3 linked regions of the Homo sapiens genome follow. The protein of the gene in region 2 interacts with the protein of the main gene of each other region in a pairwise test. Each region holds a gene or a part of one and is shown on either strand. Other genes may lie near its edges.

Region 1 (7,620 bases), on a different chromosome or scaffold from region 2:
AGCTCAAGACCAGTCTGGCCAACATGGCAAAACTCCGTCTCTACTAAAAATACAAAAAAAAATTAGCCAGGCGTGGTGGCCAGTGCCTGTATTCCCAGCTATTCGGGAAGCTGAGGCATGAGAATCACTTGAACCTGGGAGACGGAGGCTGCAGTCAGCCGAGATCACGCCACTGCACTCCAGCCTAGGGGACAGGGTGAGACTCCATCTCAAAAAAAAAAAACAACAAAACACCCAAAAAACAAAAAAGCAATTATTGATAGAGAATGCTCAATGGAAAAATAAATTACTTTTTATTATGAGACATTACTGGGAGGATAATAGATCCTAGTTAACAAAGTGTTACCATCTATGCTCTTACCATCACTAACATAATATTACTATTCTAATGAATAAATATTTACTATTAAAACAGCACTTAACATTATTTTATCTATTTTAAGGATCTAAAAGTTAGTTTAGATTTTTTCTTCAATCATCATACTACAGAATGCTAAACTATGGGTTGGCAAATACTTTGATTAACAGAATGCTGAATAACAAGGCCAGGCTGTGTTTAGGTTCCTTTGTTGATATTAAAAATAGCTAAGTCACTCTTGCAAAATTAAACTTCCATGAAATTGCGATACTGTGCAAGCTTATTTCAGTGATAATTCCGGTTATGCTACTCTGTTTATCTAAGACTTCCCCTTACGGTTTGTTTTAAGGAGACTCCTAAAAAATGTCTTATGCAGTCAAGACAGGCAGTTTATAAATGTACTGGGTTACTTCAACATTAGTGACTTTAGTTAGTAAAGCTCTTGTTTTTTTTTTTCTGCTTCATTTTTCCTTCATAAAAGCCTTGTTTTAAATTAACTTATCTGAATTAAATTAATTGATATTAAGATTTTATTTAAATCATGCATTAAAACCAAAACATCCCCAATTGAAAAATCAACTTTCATTAATTTTTTTTTACTCTTACAAAAAAGAATTTGAACGTGGTAAGAATTTTACTAAGAATAATGTATCCTGAACTGACCATGGAAAATTTCCCCTTCAAATTAAAAGCAAATGTTTTAAACAGAGGGAATATACATAAACAGATGCTGTGGAAGACTGCTTAGTTTACATTTCATTTTCCACTGAAAACTACTAGGAATTAAAATACATGTGATTTTTAAAAATATTACAGAGAATCTTAAAGAAAACAGAACCCATACAATTATTCATATCATCCAATATAAGCGCCTCTTAATTTTTTAAAACCGCTATTTTGAATCCAAAGATCATAATAAAAATAGCTTTTTTTTCAGACGGAGTTTCGCTCTTGTTGCCCAGGCTGGAATGCAATGGCGCGATCTAGGCTCACTGCAACCTCCGCCTCCGGGAGTTCAAGCGATTCTCCTGCCTCAGCCTCCCGAGTAGCTGGAATTACAGGCGCTCGCCACCATGCCCGGCTAATTTTTTGTATTTTTTTAGTAGAGACAGGGTTTCACCATGTTGGCCAGGCTGGTCTCAAACTTCTGACCTCTGGTGATCCACCCACCTCGGCCCCCCAAAGTGCTGGGATTACAGGTGTGAGCCACCGCACCCGACCCATAATAAAAATACCTTGGAGGTGTGTTTCTTGTAAATGAGTGGCTAATTTCCCAACACCCTGTAAAAGTATATGGGTAAAAAGAAACTGAAAATCATCATGCAACCAGAGTTAACAACTATCTTGCAAAATTCATATCATTTGTTTTAAAACCAAAATAGCAAGGAAGAGCTGGTGTTATCCCAATAGCCTCTTTTTAATTGGTCTACAACAACTGCAACTCTTCATAACTTTACCAACACAACAAAGTCAGGCAGGCAGTCTGACAGAGTCAACGTTTGTGGGAACCTACAGCGCTTCCTTCTCTCTCTGGAGATGAGGACAATGAAAAAAGGTGTTCTGTTTTCCAGTAGTCCTGTAAGAGGAGCCATTGAGCTGGGCTGTACAACCAGACAACAGAACACAGGAAAATTCACATCAAAGCAAGGGCGCATGCCAGGGTAATATGCAATAAAACCCTCTGCCAAAGCATTAAGGGGAAAAAAAAGCAAGGAGGTAGAGAGAACCTGCTGGACTACCTTCTCATTAACACAGGGAGGCAGAAAGAAACAAAATCTGCCTGTATTCAGGAGCGGAGAAAACTGTGTCCTAGATATATTGGAGTATTCCTATAGACATGTTTATGAGCATTCGGACAAATTATCAATGAACTAAACCCAGAAAGCAGTGTCCTGTACGGTGGAGTATTCCTATGTAGACAGACATGAGAATCTTACCATTAACTAAGCCCAAAAAGGCAAAGTATTCTAGAAACACAGATATATGAGAATTTAGATGCACATTTCCAATGAATAAAACCCACTGGTTTTACAGTGAGAAAAAACTGTTTGAAATAACATCAGGTAAAGAATTGGGTAAAGGTGTGATGAAGTTATATCCCCTCCCCTTTTCCTCATACCCTTTTTGACAATCTCTGATTCTCTCATTTCATAGATGTCCCTTTCACTTGAATGCGCACACACACACACACACACACACACACACACACACACATCATTAGGTCTCCAGAAACAAAGGAGGGTCCTTAATTCTCCGGCCTGTGGAACCACACACGCCCCCTGCCCACAGATGGTGACTTTCATTAATGAGTAAGCCGAGGGAAGAGGTCTCCACCCCGACCACTGCCATGCACACTGTGACAACGGGGCACGAGACAAGCGCCACAAAGAAAGGGGAGGAGTGGACGGGGACCAGGAAAACACTGCCACGCCGCACCCCCCAAGGCGCGCGCCCACCGCCAACGCGGGGGCAGCGTCCTCGCCATCCTCCTCCTAGCCTCCCAGCTCATCCCAGCCGCCTCCCACGCCCGGGGACCCGATGCCAGGGCTTGGGCGAGCAGGACGTGCGGGGGCCCACGCACCTTCCCTCCGTGATCTCCAGGTGACAGCCCCGCTCCGCCCTTTGTGAGGGACTCACCCTCCAGTCCCGGGGCCGCGCCGGACCCTCCTCCGCGTCCCTCCTCAGCCTGGAGACACCGCCTCACCCCTGCACACCGCGCCCGGCCGGCCGAGGCGCCGGGAGAGTGTGTGTGTGTGGGAGGCTGGCGCGGGCCCGCGGTCTCCTCAGCATCCCGAACCCGGAGCGGCTCGGTCCCCCAAACCCCAGCCCGGGGGCGGCGGCCGCGGCGCTCCCGCCCTCGCTCGCTCACTTACTCGGGCGCGCCGGTGGCAGCGGCAGACGTGCGGGACCGTCAGCGCCCTGCGGCGGGCGGCAGGCTGCGGGCGGCGAGCGTCCGTCCGGACAGAGCGCGGCGGAGGTGGCGGCGGCTGACTGCGCCCGGCGGCCCCTCGCGAGGGGCGGGCCCGCCGGGGGAGGGGCGGGCGCCGCGCCTCTCATTCATGCAGCGGGGGCGGGGTGAGGGACCCGGATGCCCGGGCAGTTTCCCCACCCACCTCGGCGGAGGGCTCGGCGGCTTCAGAGTCTGCAGTGCGCAGGCGCGGCGCTCCCTGGCCAGGCCTGGTGCGGCCCTGGCCGCTGGCTCTGTTCCTGGTTAGAACTACGCCAGACAGGCCGGGCGAGGTGGCTCACGCCTGTAATCCCAGCACTTTGGGAGGCTGAGGCGGGCAGATCACGAGGTCAGGAGATCGAGACCATCTTGGCTAACGCGATGAAACCCCGTCTCTACTAAAAATACAAAAAATTAAATTAGCCGGGTGTGGTGGCGGGCGCCTGTAGTCCCAGCTACTTGGGAGGCTGAGGCAGGAGAATCGCCTGAACCTGGGAGGCGGAGCTTGCAGTGAGCCGAGATCGTGCCACTGCACACCAGCCTGGGCGACAGAGCGAGACTCTGTCTCAAAAAAAAAAAAAAAAAACAACTACTCCAGACAGACCTTCTCCATCGACCGTTTAGTATTTTTGCGTGCCCTACAAGCATTTTTAAAAGTGAAAGCATGGGGCCGGGCGCAGTGGCTCACGCCTGTAATCCCAACACTTTGGGAGGCCAAGGCGGGTGGATCACCTGAGGTCAGGAGTTCCAGACCAGCCTGACCAACATAGAGAAACTCTGTCTCTACTAAAAATACAAAATTAGCTGGGTGTGGTGGCTCATGCCTGTAATCCCAGCTACTCGGGAGGCTAAGGCAGGAAAATCTCTTGAACCCGGGGAGCGGAGGTTGCAGTGAGCCAAGATCGCACCATTGCACTCCAGCCTGGGTGACAGAGCAAGACTCCGTCTCACACACAAAAAAATGAAAGATTGGAATGCCACCCCTTTCCTAGCATGCAGATTGACAGTCCCCAGAGACACAAGAATGGTCACGTGGTGCCCATTGGTTTGATGGGGAGATGGTATGCACCGCACCCTCCTCCATCTGCCCCTCCTGCTGCAGCCTCTCAGCTGAGTGCTAGAACCTTGGTGATGGATGAGACCTAGACTCTGCCCAGATAGTGGAGAGAGGTGTGTGCAAGAAACAGTGCATTCCTTTATTTACATCCACTCCTCAACCTCCGGCTCCCATTCTACAGGGCAGGCAATAAATTGACCTCCGATTTTGGGAGGCTGAGCTCTTCCTGCAATACCAAGGCAAGGATCTGGGGAGTCCTCTCTTGTCTTTAGCAGGCAGTGTATTCTGCAGATACTCTCTTGTTCCCATCGCCTTGTGTCTGCCACTCCTGGGGTACGGAAGTTTCTGGAGAGGCTAGGAGCCTGCAGAGGGAATGGCTGTGAAGCTCCACAGCTGACTGTGTGTGCGCTGCAGCTCAGAGCTTGCAAAAATGATTGCCCCCTCTTCCTCAGTCTCCATGTGTCCCCCAGAAGTTCTCCTTCCTTCTCCTAATCTCTCAGGCCCCATCACATAAACCATAAACAGCTCAGTAGCTTAACTTTGGGAAGCAAAAGTCATCATGGCAAGCGCCTAGAGGCATGTTCCTTCTGCTTTGGCAAACCATTAACCACCAAGGCAGGGAGGAAGTAAAGAGGGAAACATTAGTGAATTTCTCAAGAAGTCACCTGCCACCCAATGGTCACAGTCCCCCAAAGTGAGAGAAGGGTGGAGGCATGTGCTAGGGAGACTGTGGCAAAAGGAAGGGAGTGGGAGACCCAGGCTTCCTCTAGAGCTGCCTGTGCCAGGGCTGTGCTGGGGGAACACTGCCCTCCTTGCTGTCAATCATAGCAGTTACCTGGAGGGTCTTTTCAACTTTGCTTTGCTCAAACCTCTCACTGTTCTAAATCAGCCCCCTCATCTCTCCCCTGGGCTGTTGCAGAAGTCTCAATCCATTCTCATGCAAATCGATTCTCATGGTATTCAAATCTGCCTGTGTTTCTGTCTTTTTCTTTTTCCCTGCCCCATCTGGCTCCTTGAGCCTTATTTTCCAGCCATTTACAGAACAGCACCATGGTGTTTCACCTCAGTAGTCACCAAGGTGACTGCTGTTTCCTGCTGTTCCCCTACTAGGAAAGCAATACTTACCTAGCATGCAAAAGTTGCTCTTTTCTCTGAAAATCCACAGATGCTTTTTAGGGCAGTGAAAATACTCTGTGTATGATACCATAATGGTGGATACCTGTCATGACACATTTGTCTAAATCCATAGAATGAATAATACCAGCAGCAAACTCTAATGTAAACATGGATTTTGGGTGATAATGATGTGCCAATGTAGGTCCAACAATAGTAATAAATGCTCCCGTGGGAGAATGTTTATAATGGGGGGGCTATGTATGTGTAGGGGGGAAGGGCTAGTTGGGAACTCTGCACATTCCTCTCACTTTTGTGGCAAACTTAAAACTGCTCTAAAAAAAAGTAAAGTATTTACAAAGTCATTTTTGATAAAGTATTTTTTTCTGCCCCCACTTATTGACAGACTTTCCTTGAGAATCCCCACCTGTGCCCTGTACCCACTTCCCTCTCAGCACTAGGCACCCTCCAAGGTCCCTGCTCATTTGCATATTTTCTTACCACACCAGCATGTGAGTCCTTCATCAGCAGGATCAGTATCTCCCAGGACCTAATATGTGACTGGCACATAGTGGGTCTGCTGTGGCTATTGGTGGAGGTGATGTTCCCTGGTGGGCTGGGGAGGCTCCACAGGAGAAGGAAAGGCTGAGCTCCTTTTCTTTCTTCTTCCTTATTTTGGCTTCCTTCCTCTGCCCTGCGTTTGGAAACCTGTTTTGTTTGTTTGTTTAGAAAGCTTGGCTAGTAATTCACTAGTCCAATCAGGCTGTAGGGTAGAGGATGGAGTGGCTCATTTCATGTCTTTTGTTCTTGAAAAAATTAGGGGTGAGTGGGAAAGAGAATGAGAGAATGAACGGAAGGAGGAGGGGCCGTGTCCAGTTGCTGTTTTCAGGGAGACTCATCTTATTAAAATTTTGCTGTGTCATCAACTGGCCCAACTGGTTTTTAGGGTCAAGGAGAAAGTTTTCCTTTGGGACTGGACAGGTGGAATCTGGCCTCACAGTTTCTACAACATATGGCAGGATCCTGCTCTTCTGTCCCCTGTAGCGGGTTGTCCCGTGTTCCCCTTAAGGAAGAAATCACAGTTTTTGTCCTCCTGGTGCTTCCGGCTGGAGGTTCACCTGCTAGTCCCTGATCCTCTTTGCTTAGTGATGCACATGAGTCTACTCATCCCCCCACCACTCCCAGCCCCCACTGGTCTAGGCAAAATGCAAGTGATGGGAGAGTGTGGGTGGGCAATTCTTTCTCTGGAGGGTTTAGGTGGGTACCTCAAAACAGCAGGCAGCTAGGACTTGAAGTGGTGGCTTCGCAGCTAACATTTTCCTTGTTCCACATGATGGGTAGGGGTAGGGTAGGGAAGACTTCACTGTTTGGAGTTTCGGAGGATGCCCCTCTTTCTCTTTATCCTTCCTCCCCACAGTCCCCTCCCATCTCCTCCCTTATACCTCTTTTTTTTTTTTTTTTTTTTTTTTGAGATGGAGTTTCGCTCTTGTTGCCTGGGCTGGAGTACAGTGGCGCCATCTCGGCTCACTGCAACCTCCATCTCCCAGGTTCAAGCAATTCTCCTGCCTCAGCCTCCTGAGTAGCTGGGATTACAGGCATGCGCCACCACGCCCAGCTAATTTTGTATTTTTAGTAGAGACGGGGTTTCTCCATGTTGGTCAGGCTTGTCTCAAACTCCTGACCTGAGGTGATCCACCTGCCTCGGCCTCCGAAATTGCTGGGATTACAGGTGTAAGCCACCACGCCCAGCCCTTATACCTCCTTTTAAGCAATGTCCTCACCCCAAATCCATCTCAGAAAATTGTCCCTACCCATATGGTCAGAAGTCCTTCAAGACTCCTGGAAAAGAAATCACAACTACTTTTAAATCAAACGTCTGACTAATTTTGGAACAGTGAGAACAGGGGCTGGTTTTAGTCATCTTTGGATCAGGTGCCCAATACAAGTTTGTTGAATGAATGCCTGACTGGTCAAGACAAAATCAGTCTTTCAAACAGAAGCTAGAAATCAAAGGTTGCCTATAGCCCCATTCCTCTGTCCATCCTCCCCATCTGTTGAGATGGCACGATTTCAGAAAAACATCCCTCCCACTGGTCAATCCTTTGAAAGCTTAATTATTCAGAGTTCTAAATGACCCCTTTAAGG
Region 2 (7,468 bases):
ATTAGCATATGTGGCCAGGTGCGGTGGCTCACGCCTGTAATCCCAGCACTTTGGGAGGCCGAGGCAGGCAGATCACAAGGTCAGGAGTTTGAGACCAGCCTGGCCAACATGGTGAAACCCATCTCTACTAAAAATACAAAAATTAGCCGGGCGTGTGGTGAATGCCTGTAATCCTAGCTACTCAGGAGCCTGAGGCAGGAGAACTGCTTGAATCCGGGTGGTAGAGGTTGCAGTGAGCTGAGATCATGCCACTGTACTCCAGCCTGGGCAACAGAGTGAGACTCCGTCTCAGGGAAAGAAAAAAAAATTGGCATATGCTTTAAAAAGTAGACATAAAACTTTATTTGGGGGCTGGAGGGAAGAGAGAGATACATTCAATTAAGGAACAATTCCGTGAAAGTCCAATGACATAAAGGTAGTCTTTATAAATAATCCTGTTATCTAGCTCCACATTTCCCCAAATTAAAGCCTAATGGTTTCTGCAATGTTGAATACACCAAACCAGCAAAATAACCCTTGCTTCCTTCTCATCACACCCAACCACCCCAAGCTCCTCTAAGAGGCATCTGTCTGGCAGTTCACGAGAATCTAAGAGTGAGGCTTACCAGGCCTGTGATCCAAAACCGTACCAGGCTAACTGGAGCATCTGGAAGCCCAAGCCAAGGAGGACAGTATTCTTATTTCCTAATGATCTCATCAAGATGCTAAGAAAGGCCGTCTGCAAAGTAAAGGAGACAACTCTGAAAAACCACATCAACACACAGAATTAAAATACAAGCTCTGTGTGTGAAGACCCTTCCCTGATGACCAGAGACCTCTAAGGGCACACTGCCTGACCTGCAACCTCAGAGTCTGGACAGTACTGATGACCTTCTACAGGGGTGGAGTGTTGGGGGCTCCCAGCCTGACCTGGGGCTCAATGCTTTCAGCCTCCTCCCTAAGAAGCCTGTCTACCTGGTGCTCTGCTGGCACTTCCTGAAAGGATATCACAACTGTTCACCAGTTACCATGACTGAGAGGGACAGCCTCAGTCTCTGGAGAAATACTAATCACTTAAATATCTGTGAATAGCAAACTCCTGCTGAACATTTACAGAATATGAGAGCTTCTGCTGGAAGTTTACAAAGTTGGAATTGGGATGTAAGTTTGATTTTAACAAATATATACTCTGCTAAATATAACTAGTTGAGAAAGTCTAAAAAGGGGTTGGATGAAAGATGACTGGGCTGGCCGGGTGTGGTGGCTCATGCCTGTAATCCCAGCACTTTGGGAGGCCGAGGCAAGCAGATCACAAGGTCAGGAGTTCGAGACCAGCCTGGCCAGCAGGGTGAAACCCTGTCGCTACTAAAAATACAAAAATTAGCCAGGCATAGTGGTGCACACTTGTAGTCCCAGCTATTTGGGAGGCTGAGGCAGTAGAATCACTTGAACCCGAGAGGCAGAGGTTGCAGTGAGCCGAAATCATACCACTGCACTCCAGCCTGGGTGACAGAGCGAGACTCCGTGTCAAAAAAAAAAAAAAAAAAAGATGGCTGAGTTTATGTTTGATTTTGTAAAAAACCAAAATGATCAACTTGAAAGGTTAACATAATTTACATTTGCAACACATTTCAACAAAAACAAAAATATAAACGGCCTTTGTTTTGATGCATTCCCATAAGCCTTGTCAAATGTAGTAGTTTTGCGGCCTTCTCATTTCTCCTTGAGAGAGGTTACCACAGAAGAATGCTCTGCTTTCCTGGTAACCATTTCAGGGAAAACAACCCCTAGGCAGTACCATAAAATATAGTGAGTGTGCCTTGGCACAACAGTGAATTAATTTAAGGACAATATGCTTCATCTTTTCTGGTACTGTATTTACAATAGATAGGGAAATGGTTAATGCTCTCTACTCACTGAAAATCATTTATCAATACCTATATATAATAGATATTTATATATAATATCTATTATATATATATGAATATATATGAATATATGAATATATATGAATATATGAATATATATGAATATATATGAATATATATGAATATATATATGAAAATATATATATATATATATTCTCCCTCTCTCTTTTTTGAGATGGAGTCTCACTCTGTCACCTAGGCTGGAGTGCAGTGGCGCAATCTCGGCTCCCAGCAACCTCCACTTCCCAGGTTCAAGCGATTCTCCTGCCTCAGCCTCCTGAGTAGCTGGAATTACAAGCACATGCCACCACACCCAGCTGATTTTTGTATTTTTAGTAGAGACAGGGTTTCGCCATATTGGCCAAGCTGGTCTGGAACGCCTGACCTCAGGTGATCCACCTGCCTTGGCCTCCCAAAGTGCTGGGATTACAGGTGTGAGCCACCGTGTCTGGCCCTCACTGAATATGTTTTAATGCTCTGATTCATATTTCTTCAGTCCTGGGAACAGTCGGAGTTAAAGCAGTTACAGATTTTCATTTCTGCTTTTCATTTCTACTTACTTTTCAACATTAAAATAACACTGAACCATTTTCCTAGTTGATTTTGCAATCCAGAGATAGATTATAATTATTTACTATTTTGGTTGGTGTAAAAGCAAATAAAATAATTGACCCAGCAGAGGTTACGACAAATATTCTAAAAAGTAGGGAAAGTTGTATCAAAGTTCTCCTAAATCATCTTTTCTGAGAAAACACTAAATGGCAGATGATGCTGGTGCAAGGGGAGCACCAGAGGCCCCCAGGGGCCTGGGATGGGGAACCACTGTGGCTTCCGAGGAGACTTAGGCAGTGGCATCGGGGCCAGGGCCCCTGAGCTGAGGAGGCAAGGCTGAAGACAAGAGTGGATGCCAGTCACCAGGCTGGGCTGCCTGGTCAAGGATATAATTTTAAAAACATTGTTTTAAATAAAAACATAAAAAATTTCCCCTAAATTACAACCTCAAAAAAGAAAATAACCTCTACACATTATATAAGAAGGAATAGTTCTGTGGACCACATTCACATCAGTTTCTTGATCTGATATTATACTATAGCTTGCAAGACCTTACCATAGCAGGGGGTGAGGGACTGAGGTAGCAGCTCAGGGAATATCTTCCTGCATTTTTATATGTGGCTTCCTGTGAAACTATGGTTATCAGGATATTTTTTAAATTTTTTAAGTATAGATAAAATGATACTCACCTGAGCCACAATAGACAGAATTCCTACCATAGCTATGAATGCTGCAATTTTAACAGATCCAAAACCTATGACCTATGGAAATGAAATGAAAACACTTTAGTAATATAGATATTATAAAATAATAAGAAATATTATGTTCTATTACAATGATAAGTCTAGGAAAATTCATAAAACCAGTGGCAAATTAAGACATGCTGAAAGCTGAACCTATATAACCAGTAATTTATATCTAAAACTGATGTAAGAAATCGTTATAAGCAGGCACAACTTAAATTGTGAAATGTTTTATAGACATTTTCTATTATATGTCTACCTGTTGTTTTATATACCCTCTCCATCCCCAACCCACAAGTTGATAAATATGGTATCAAGTAATAAAAAATGAAACAAAATGACTGACTTTTGATGCTGCCAATACAGCATTGCTCATTAGCAAAGCCAGTGGCTCTCAACTTTGCCTGCACATTAAAATCATGATGTAAGCAAAAGACAAGGGATAAGGAGAGCAAGGGAAGGAGAGCAGTGAGATGCTGGAAGACCACTGGAGACCAGTTAAATCAGGCTCTCTGGCGGTATGACCCGGGCACAGGTATGTTTTAAAAGCTCCCATGGTGATTCTAATAAGCAGCCAAAGTAACCTGGCAATGATTTCTAAGCCTCTGACCGTAACAGTATCTCCGAAATGTCTACAACTTTTAAGACTTAAATATCAAGTTTTTTAAAAGTTACGTTATTTTGGGGCTAGGTGCAGTGGCTCACGCCTGTAATCCCAGCACTTTGGGAGGCCAAGGCAGGCGGATCATCAGGTCAGCAGTTCGAGACCAGCCTGACCAACATGGCGACACCCCGTCTCTACTAAAAATACAAAAAATTAGCTGGACGTGGTGGCGTGTGCCTGTAATCCCAGCTACTCAGGAGGCTGAGGCAGGAGACTAGCTTGAACCTGGAATGTAGAGGTTGCAGTGAGCCAAGATTGTGCCACTGTATTCCAGCCTGGGCGACAAAGTGAGACTCCATCTCAAAAAAAAAAAAAAGTTACATTATTTTGCCCTATATTAAAATTCAGGAAAAGGACCTTAAAAATTATGGGATTAAATTATATACATTATTCTCATTTCACAAATGAGTGTCTTGCTTCCAGGGACACAACTGGCTAATGAAAAGTCCTAGGGCTAGAACCTCTGGACAGCCAATCCAGTGCTGCTGACATTAACATTTTGTTTGAAGTTTTAAAAACTGGAACCGGAAAATGTAGATTTAGGGATTCTCAGCCTTTATTTGTAAATATATATTATTGTTAAAGAGCTTTATTAAGATAGAATTTAAATACCATACAATTCACCCATTTAAGTGTGTAGGTCAATGGTTTTAGTATATCCAAAGAGTTGTGCAACCATCAGCACAATCAAAAGTGATTTTCATCATTCCTCAAAGAAACGTAGCAGCCATTAGGAGTTCTACTCCCCTAACCTTCCCATCCCCCAACCGTTAGTCTACTTCCTGTCCCTATGGATTTGCCTATTCTGGGCATTTCACATAAATGAAATCATACAATGTGCAGTACTTTGTGACTGGCTTCTTTCTCTGAGCATGTCGTCAAGGTTCACCTATGTTGTAGCACGTATCTGTACTTCATTGCTTTTTACTGCTGAATAATTAACATTCTAATGTATAGGCATATTTGTTAATCCATTCATTAGCTGATAGACATTTGAGTTGATTCTACTTTCTAGACATTATGAATGATAATCTGTGTACAAGTTTCTGTGTTAGAAGTGTGTTTTCATGTCTCATGGGTATATATACCTAGGAGTATATTTGCTGAGTCATATGGTAACTATATGTTGAATATTTTGGGGAACTGCCAGGCTGTTTTCTTACAGCAGCTGTACCATTTTACATTCTCACCAGCAAGTATGAGGGCTCCGATTTCTCCACATCCTTGTCTGTCTTTTTGATAGCCATCCTAGAACATGTGAAATGGTTATCTCATTGTTGGTGTGACTTGCATGTCCTTGACGGCTAGTAATGTTATTCTTCTTTTCCTGTGCTTATTGGCCTTTTGTAGATCTTCTCTGCAAAATCCTTTGCCTATCTTTTCAACTGAGTTGTCTCTTTATTGTTGAGTTATTGTAAGATGCTATTAAGTCTTTTATTATAAGAGTTCTACATGTATTCTGGATACAAGTTATTTATCAAATATATGATCTTCAAATATCACATGCAAATTTAACTAAAATGTTAGTGTGTTAATTGTTCTTAGCAGCCAGCAATAATATAAAATAATATGGAATGATTCCGATTTGTCATAATTGGTGGTGGTGGTGACATGAGCATATGTGTAGGAGAAAAGCTAGAAGAATAAAATAGTCATAGTTGTTTATTACCTACATAAAGAGATGTAACTTTTTTTTTAGCTTTCTTCCTTGGACTGTCTCATCTTCCTACATTATTTTCTGTGTTAAATGCATATGTAATGTAATGCACAAATTAATTTAGACACAAGTATAATTTTCTACACTATCTCACCATTCTTCCCTCTAAATCTCTAGCATACAACCACCAAAAATGAACAAAAGAGAAATGCCTGGGAAAGATCGGGTGTAGTGGCTCATGCCTATAATCCCAGCATTTTGGGAGGCTGAAACAGGCAGATCACTTGAGACCAGGAGTTCAAGACCAGCCTGACCAACATGGTAAAACCCTGTCTCTACTAAAAATACAAAACTTAGCTGGGTGTGGTGGTGCATACCGATAATCCCAGCTGCTTGGCAGGCTGAGGCACAAGGATTTCTTGAACCCAGGAGACAGAGGCTGCAGCGAGCCAAGATCACGCCATTGCACTCCAGCCTGGGCAACAGAGCAAGACTCTTGTCTCCAATAAAAAAGTAAAAAGGTTTTATTTATATGCCACCACGTAAAATATTAGTCCCATACCCTCAGGAAAACTATCAGAATGAAGAATTTAATACACTTCATTTTTAAATACAACCAGAAAAAGAGGAATTTATCTTAGGAGGAAGCTTGCTGTGTCAAAGTAAACCATTAGGAAAAGGCCTGCCTTCCAATGAAATCAGTAAAAGACCACAGGATGCAATGGAAAGGCAGCTTAGGTCTGAGCAATCCCAGAGAGCTGAAGAACAGTTGAAAGGGGAAGTTTTTGGTTTTCTTTTTTTTAATTGCTTTAAGTCAATTATCTGTTTTGGGGGACAAAATAGGGTATAAATTTTTTTAAAGTGTAAAATACTCTAGAGAGGGAAGATTTTGATTAATGCTTTTGAGTCCCCCTGAAGTCCACAGCAGCAGTTGAGCTATGACCTACTGAAGGTGCCTCAGCAAGCTGGCTTCAATCAGACCTGGAACAAGGGCAGGTCTGAAATAAGTTTTATCTGTTAAATTTAATTAATATTATTAAAGATTAAAACATTACAGTACATGAATGTTACAGCAGCTTTATGCACAACTGTCAAAACTTTAAAGCAAGTAAGGTGTCGTTCAGTGGGTGAATGGATAAACTGGCAAATCCAAACAAATGCCAAAAACAAAATGAGCTATCAAGCCATGAAAGAACCTTAAATGCATATTATTAATTGAAAGAAACCAATCTGAAAAGGCTACATACTGTATGAAAAAAGGTAAAACTATGGAGACAATAAAGAGATCAGTGGTTGCCAGGGGTTGGTGGTGGAGGGAGAGATAAACAGGCATAGCATAAGGGATTTTTGCAGTGAAAATTCACTGTGTGATACTGTAAGGGTTGATACATGTTATCATGTCATCATACGTTTGTCCAAACCCATAGAATGTACAACACTAAGCATGAACCCTAATGTAAACTGTGGACTTTATGTTAAGATAATTTGTCAATGTAGGTTCATCAGTTGTAAAAATTTCCCACCCTCGTGGGAGATGTTGATAGTGGAGGAGGCTATGCATGTATGGGGATAGGGGATATATGGGAAATCTCTATATCTTACTCTCAATTTTGCTGTGAACCTAAAACTGTTCTAGAAAAATAGTCTATTTAAAAAAAAAAAAAAAAAAAACAGGCTGGGCACAGTGGCTCACGCCTGTAATCCCAGCATTTTGGGAGACCGAGGCGGGTGGATCACTTGAGGTCAGGAGTTCGAGACCAACCTGGCCAACACGGTGAAACCCTGTCTCTACTAAAAATACAAAAATTGGCTGGGCATGGTAGTGCACGCCTGTAATCCCAGCTACTCGGGAGGCTGAGACAGGAGAATCGCTTGAACTCAGAAGGTAGAGGTTGCAGTGAGCCAAGATCGTGCCATTGCACTCCAGCCTGGTGGACAAGAGCAA
Region 3 (7,468 bases), on a different chromosome or scaffold from region 2:
TGGATTTTCTACTTGCAAGATGTTGTGGTTACCCTCCAGAGACAATAAACTCCCCCACCCAAAATTTGAATCAGATATTGAAATGCCAAAGTACCAAGAGGTACTAAGAGGATACCAAAAGGTTTATTACACATATAATAAGGCTTTCCAGGGAGAGCAAGGCAAGATCCCAAGCATGTCCCAAAATGACTTGAGAACCTGAAGGCTGACTGACTGGCTTGTGGTTTTAGAAGGTGGGGCTAGAGCAAGAGCTCCCTCATGTAGGCCTGAGCTTGCATGGTTGAAACTTCCTGCTGGTGTCAACCAAGGTAGCACTTGGGCTTTCTTATCAGCTTGTCAAGATGTGGGGCAAAAAGGAAAGGGAGACTTCCAGTTTCTGGTATGGCATGTGAGAAGTTTAGAGTTTATCACTTATTCCTAACAACAAGTAAAAAGCTAAACAAATGGAAAAACTGACAACTCTTCTTAGATCCACCAAAGAAGTGAGATCATGGGTAAACTGCTGCCCTCAAAATAGGAGAGACAGACAGATAAATACAGAGAATCACACCTTATTAGAGCAGAAACCCACGAGCAGAAGCCTCCATGGAAACCAGTACCAGAGTAGGAAACCTTGACTATAAATGATAAATTGCTGGAAGTTCAGTGTAGAAAAGTCTAAGACCTAAAAACTGTAGGGGAGCCAATCATAGAGGGTCCCCACACTCCAGGAGCTCTACCAAGTTCTCCCAGTAAAGATCTGAGAAAAATCCCCTCAGGCTTCTGGCAAGGGGGAAGAAAAGTAACCATTTTGAAATATGCCAGAACATTCCGTTATTCTCACTAAGGCCTGCCCTCAAGATAAATGGTTTTGCACAGCCCAAACTATTGGGGTTTTGTCAGAGATTAACCAGCCTGGGGAATATCCAAATGCAACTGCTCTAGCCTCCCATGTGGGAGAAAGGAAATACCCATTCCAACCCACTGTAGTATCCTGTCCCACCAAAGGAGAGGAAAAAAACTGAAAAGCACTTGTGAAGTTAACAGTTCAGAAGCACAGGCTCACTAAAAGACTAAGAACCTAATCATAGGACTGCAAAACACTTTCCCTCTCCCACATCTTAATACCAAATTACTAAAGACCTATTTACCATAATTCCTTTTTTACCCAGGTACATCATGTCCAGCTATCAAGAAAAAAAATTACAAGGCATCCTAAAAGGCAAAAGCAGTTTGAAGAGACCAAGTAAAACTAAGAGAGTAAGCACCAAAACCAGACTCAGATATGGTGGGGATACTGGACTTACCATATGAAGAGATTAAAGCAACTATGACTAATACACTAAGGGCTCTAATGGATAAAGTAGATAGCATGCAAGAATAGATGGGCAATATAAGCAGAGAGATGGAAATTCGAAGAGAGAATCAAAAAGAAATGCTAGCGATAAAACAAATTTAAAAACCCACTGTAACAGAACTGAAGAATAGTAGACTGGACACAGCTGAGGAAAGAATCCCTGAGCTTGAAGACATTATCAACAGACACTTCCCAAACCGAAAGACAAAGAGAAAAAAGATGGGAACCTCCTCCACCAAAAACAAACAAACAAACAAACACAGAATAAAATATCCAAGAACTGTGAAACAATTACAAAAGGTATAAGTGTACTAGAACACCAGAAGGAGAAGAGAAAGCTAAAGAAATCTTTGAAACAATCACTGAGAATTTATCCTAAATTAAGTCAGACAACAAACCACAGATCCAGAAAGTTCAGAAAACACCAAGCACAGTAAATGTTCCTCAAAATTACACCTGGGCATATCATTTTCAAACTGCAGAAAATCAAAGATAAAGAAAAAAACAGTGAAGTATGTGAACACAAGGGAAAGACAGCTAAATAGAACTAAACATGGCTAGGGAGAAAATGGCTAGGGAGAACTCTCTAGGGAAGCTGAGGCTGACAAATGATCTGGACTTTGAAAGGTAAGGTTAAGTAGGAGCCGAACAAAATTAATTGTGGTAGTGGGAAAGTGCATTCAAGAAGAGGGACTGATTCACAAAAGGAAAGAACATGTTGGGAAATCCGAGGAGATTGTAAAGTGAAAGCAAAAGAGTGGCGCATGGAAGCCAGATCAAGAATTGACATTAAAGTGACAGGAAACTATAGAAGAATTTCAAACAGAAAAGTGGCAAAATCATATTCATATTTCAAAAATGTAACTAGGTTACAGGTAGAGCACATCAAGATTAGAAACAGGGACGATAAGATAGTAGCAGTGGGAAAAAAGAAGTGAAAGAATCCATATATATTTAATGAGTATAATTAATAGGACAAGAAGTGGAAAGAGAAAAAAGAGCAGAACCATATCATTCCTTGGTTTCTAGTTTTTTTTTTTTTTTTGAGACAGGGTCTCGCTCTGTCGCCCAGGCTGGAATGAGGTGGCATGATCACACCTCACTGTAGCCTCGACCTCCTGGGCTCATGCCATCCTCCCACCTCAGCCTCCTGAGTAGCTGAGCCTACAGGCATGAATCACCATGCCCAGATAACTTTTTGCACACACACGGTCTTGCCATGTTTGTTGCCCAGGCTGTTCTCAAACTCCTATACTCAAGCGATCTGCCCACCTTGGCCTCCCAAAGTGCTGGTTACAGGCGTGAGCCACTGTGCCTGGCCTGGTTTTCACATTTAACAATTGACAGAGAACGTAACAGCAGGAGCAAGTAAGGAAGTAAAAGTGGGTAGACAAGACCCATGTAAAAATGCTTGCAAATTTAAAAATGAAACAATCTGGCTGCTCTAACGCTATTAATGCCTATTTCTAGTTTTGTATTTTAAAAAGTTTTCATTAAAATGTTGTTTGAGGATCAGGAAAAACAACTAAGATACTAGGCTTAATACTTGGGTGATGAAAGAATCTGTATAGCAAATCTCCATGACACGCGTTTACCTAAGTAACAAACTTACACATCCTGTACATGTACCCCTGAAGTTAAAAGTTAAAAAAAAAAGTTCAAATTGTGTGTTTTCCCATGTGTGTACACATATACACAGAGAAGAGGGAGAGTGCATGCAGTAGCAAGAAGATAAAGCAAGTTGTCTGACTTAATTTCGGATAAATTCTCAGCATGAATTGTTAACAATGGCTAAGTCTCTGTATGTGAAGGATAGAGACTGCCCTTTGTATTATTTTTATTTTGCAATCTTTTGTAAGCTTATTCCCAAAAAAACATTTAAAAACTGTTATGTTCAGGCCGGGCGTGGTAGCTTACGCCTGTAATCCCAGCACTCTGAGAGGCCGAGATGGGCGGATCACCTGAGGTCGGGAGTTCGAGACCAGCCTGACCAACATGGAGAAACCCCTTCTCTGCTAAAAATACAAAAAATTAGCTGGGAATGGTGGCGCATGCCTGTAATCCCAGCTACTAGGGAGGCTGAGGCAGGAGAGAATCCCTTGAACCTGGGAGGCGGAGGTTGTGGTGAGCTGAGATCGCGCCATTGTACTCCAGCCTGGGCAACAAGAGCAAAACTCCATCTCAAAAAAAAAAACAAAAACAAACTTATGTTCAGAATACATATGTGTGTTGTACATAAAAGAATGTACACAAGTTAGTGATTGAGTGTATATAGCAGTTAACTTACCTTTCTGAAACGAATGCTCATTTTAAAATTATTTTTTAAATCTGACAAGTAAAAATTGTACACATATGGTGTATAACATGTTTTGCAGTATGTATATATTGGGGAATGGCTAAATTAAGCTAATTAACCTACACGTTACTTCACATACTATTTTTTGTGGTGAGAACACTTAAAATCTACTTTTTTTTTTTTTTTTTGAGACAAGAGTTTCACTCTTGTTGCCCAGGTTGGAGTGCAATGGCGTGAACTCAGCTCACTGCAACCTCTGCCTCCTGGGTTCAAGTGATTCTCCTGCCTCAGCCTCCCAAGTAGCTGGGATTACAGGCACCTGCCACCACACCCAGCTAATTTTTGTATTTTTAGTAGAGACGGGGTTTCACCATGTTAGCCAGGCTGGTCTCAAATCACCTCTGATGATCCACCTGCCTTGGCCTCCCAAAGTGCTGGGATTACAGGTGTGAGCCACCGCTTGGCCAAAATCTACTTTTTAAAAGCAATTTTGAAGTATACAATACACTGTTAGTAACCATAGTTACCATGTTTTAAATAGATCTCTTGAACTTATTCCTCCTGTCTAAATGAAATTTTGTATCCTTTGACCAACATCTTTTCCAACCCCATATCCAGTCTCTGGTAATCACCATTGTACCTTCTATTTTTAATGCTCATTAAAAAGAAAATATACATATATATACTAGAGGCAGAGAGCTTTAAAATAAAATCCAAGTTCTTACCATAAAAAATCTAGTCCATTCCTATAGTCCTCACCAATCTCATCTCAAGCTACTCTTTCCCTCACTCACCACGTTATTATCCTGCTTTTAAGGAAATGTTTTGCCTTAGAGCCTTCCCCCTTGATGTTCCCTCTATTTAGGACACCCTTCCTTGCAAGTCTTGCTCCTTCCTATTCTTTGGTATCAGCTCAAATGTCACTTCCTCAGAAAGGCCTTCTTTGACTACCCTGTCCATATGAGATCCCATTGTTCCACCGAATTGTTACTTTCTATCACAACAACCTGTATTATCACATACATATTAGACATTAAAATTCAAAGAAAGCAAGGGCCTTGCTGTTTTGCCCATTGAGTATATCAAGGGTGAAGCACAACACTGTCCATAAATACATTTTGCATCAATGTTGATGAGATGTAATGGGAAGCCAACCAAAGAATTCAGTAGTTCTGATGTATAAGTCCTTACACATTTTCTAAACTGTATTTGAGAAGACTGAAAAATATAAACAAAAATGTCTTACCTCCTGCAATTACAAAATGGCTTAAGGCATCTTTATTTCGGTATACATTCAGACTAGTGTTCACTGTGCTGGTAAAAAGGGAGGAGAAGGAAAATATAAGATTTAAAGCATATCCCATTTACCTTCTTGAGTGTTATTTTCACTGACTTAATAGATTTAGAAAAGCCTACTATATCAATCCCTGTTCCTAGCCTAGGCCCCTTCAATGTGTTCCAGACATGGTTGTAAAACCATAACTACACCAGTCTTTTACACAGAGAAAAGTTCTTGAAAAAAAAAAAAAGGCATTATTAATCACTTTCATGTGGGTATTCAGTTTTCATAACCCCACCTGCTCAAAAGACACACTCCTAAAACAATATCAAGAAAATTCACTATCTCACAATTCAGAGTGAACTTACTTGAATATAGTCACAAACACTGCAGTTCTCCAACCCCAGCGCCAGCCATAACGAATGAAGCCTCGTGTGGCAGCACGATGTGCAGATTGCTAAAGTTAATTAAAAAACTGTGAGGTTCTAAGACACCATCATATTTTCCTTATTCTAGAACTGCGGTAGAGGAATTTTAGCTATGGATTAGTCAGGTACACCCAAACAGATAGAAATACTAGAAAATCTCTAGAAATACTATTCTTTAAGTATTGAGGCTTACGTAAAAGTTCCATGTGTAGCCTATCCTATCAGGAGATGAAAAAATGGTTGAGTATCCCTTATCTGATACTTGAGACCAGATCCCTTATCTGATACTTGGATTTAGGATTTTTTCAGATTTGGGAATATGCGCTTTTAACACTTACTGGTTGAGCATCCCAAATCCAAAAAACCGAAATCTGAAATGCTCCAATGAGCAATTCCTTTGAATGACGTGTCAATGCTCAAAAAGTTTTGAATCTGAGCATTCAGGATTTCAGATTTGTGCTGCTCAACCTGTAATGAATTATAAATCTACAGAATAAAATAAGAATCCATGAGTCCCTACTGATAGAAATAAATTATAAATAGATAAATAAATATGTAAATAGAGGGGGGAAGGGAAAACACTTCCTTAGAGCATAATACTAACCAATAAATGTAGAAAGAATGATAGACTTTAGAAAATGCCCATTTGGCCACCACAGTCATAATTGTTACAGGAAGAATCATCATTAAATGCTAAAACTGCCTGGGTATGGTGGCTCACACCTGTAATCTCAGCACTTTGGGAGGCAACTAGGGAGGATCACTTGAGCCGACAAGTTTAAGACCAGCCTGGGCAACATAGCGAGATCCTGCCTTTACAAAAAAAATTTAAGAATTAGCTAGGCATGGTGGTGTGTGTTTGCAGTCCTAGCTACTCGGAAGGCTGAGGCGGGAGGAAACCTTGAGTCCAGAAGTTTGAGGTTGTGGTGAGCTATGATCGCGCCGCTGCACTCCAGCCTGCACTGAGGCAGGAAGACCCTGCCTCAAAAAATTTCAAAAAAAAAATTAATTAATTAAAAAATAAAAATAGGCTGGGCACAGTGGCTCACACCTATAATCCCAACCCTTTGGGAGGCCAAGGAGGGGGTGAACTGCTTGAGCTGAGGACTCTGAGACCAGCCTGGGCAACATGGCAAAACCCTGTCTCTACAAAAAATACAAAAATTAGCTGGGAATGGTGGCACATGCCTATAGTCCCAGCTACTTGGGAGGCTGAGACAGGAGAATCGAGTGAGCCTGGGAAATGGAGGTTGCAGCAAGCCAAGATTGTGCCACTGTACTCCAGCCTGGGCAACAGAGTGAGACCCTGTCTCAAAAAATAAATAAAGGAATAAATAATTTTTAAAAAAATAAAAAAATTATAAATGCTAAGAATTTAGAATAGTTTTTAGATAGTAGAAATATTATAGTTTATAATAGCATTTAAGTAGTAGAAATTTGATGAAAAGCAGGATATTTACATAGTCTCAAAGGAACTAACAAGTACTCAAAATACTTATAAATTACCAAGGAAAAACATAGTAATTTTACAGTGTATAGTTGGCAGAGGCCATCTTAAGCAAGTCACTGAAGTAAACATCACCAGTAAAGGGACAGAGATATCATGGGTTTCTAATTTAATTTCAGTTCTAGGGTATTCCTGTCAAAAAACATAGTCTGAATGCAGTCATGAGAAACCATCAAACAAACCCAAATTGAGGGACATTCTACAAAATAAATCACCCATAGTCAAGGCCATGAAAGACAAAAACAGAGAAACTCTTCCAGACTAAATGAGACCAAAGCAGCATAACAGGCAAATTCAACATGTGATCCAGGGTCAGATTCTGGACCAGACAAAAAAAAATTTAATTAATTAATTTTTTAATAAGAACTCAAGCCTAACTTCTGAAAAATACATTTTTTTATTTATTTTTAAAATAAATGATACTGTGGGATAACTAGCAAAATTTACAGGTCTTTAAATAAGATAATAGTACTATATCTGTGTTAATTTCCTGATCTTGATATTATAATTGTGGTTGTATAAGAGAATTTCCTTGTTTTTAGGAAATAACACACTGAAGTATTCATCATGTCTATAACCTACTGTCAAGTAGCTCAGAACAAATTAGTACATATTATACAGA

What was found.
Region 1: the proteins of SLC71A2 (region 2) and RNF24 interact in binary tests that used the Homo sapiens proteins (3 or more experiments, as listed by UniProt).
Region 3: the proteins of SLC71A2 (region 2) and TIMMDC1 interact in binary tests that used the Homo sapiens proteins (3 or more experiments, as listed by UniProt).

What each region holds. Positions count from the first base shown.
Region 1 is NC_000020.11:4,012,206-4,019,825, forward strand, and holds the start of RNF24 (RING finger protein 24), read right to left. Parts: upstream 3,354-7,620; 5' UTR 3,232-3,353; exon of another isoform or gene 2,940-3,231; intron 1-2,939. UniProt on the Homo sapiens protein: May play a role in TRPCs intracellular trafficking.
Region 2 is NC_000009.12:94,447,208-94,454,675, reverse strand, and holds part of SLC71A2 (hippocampus abundant transcript-like protein 1), read right to left. Parts: intron 3,221-7,468; coding exon 3,149-3,220; intron 719-3,148; coding exon 606-718; intron 1-605.
Region 3 is NC_000003.12:119,501,432-119,508,899, reverse strand, and holds part of TIMMDC1 (complex I assembly factor TIMMDC1, mitochondrial isoform 1 precursor), read right to left. Parts: intron 5,369-7,468; coding exon 5,280-5,368; intron 4,947-5,279; coding exon 4,879-4,946; intron 1-4,878.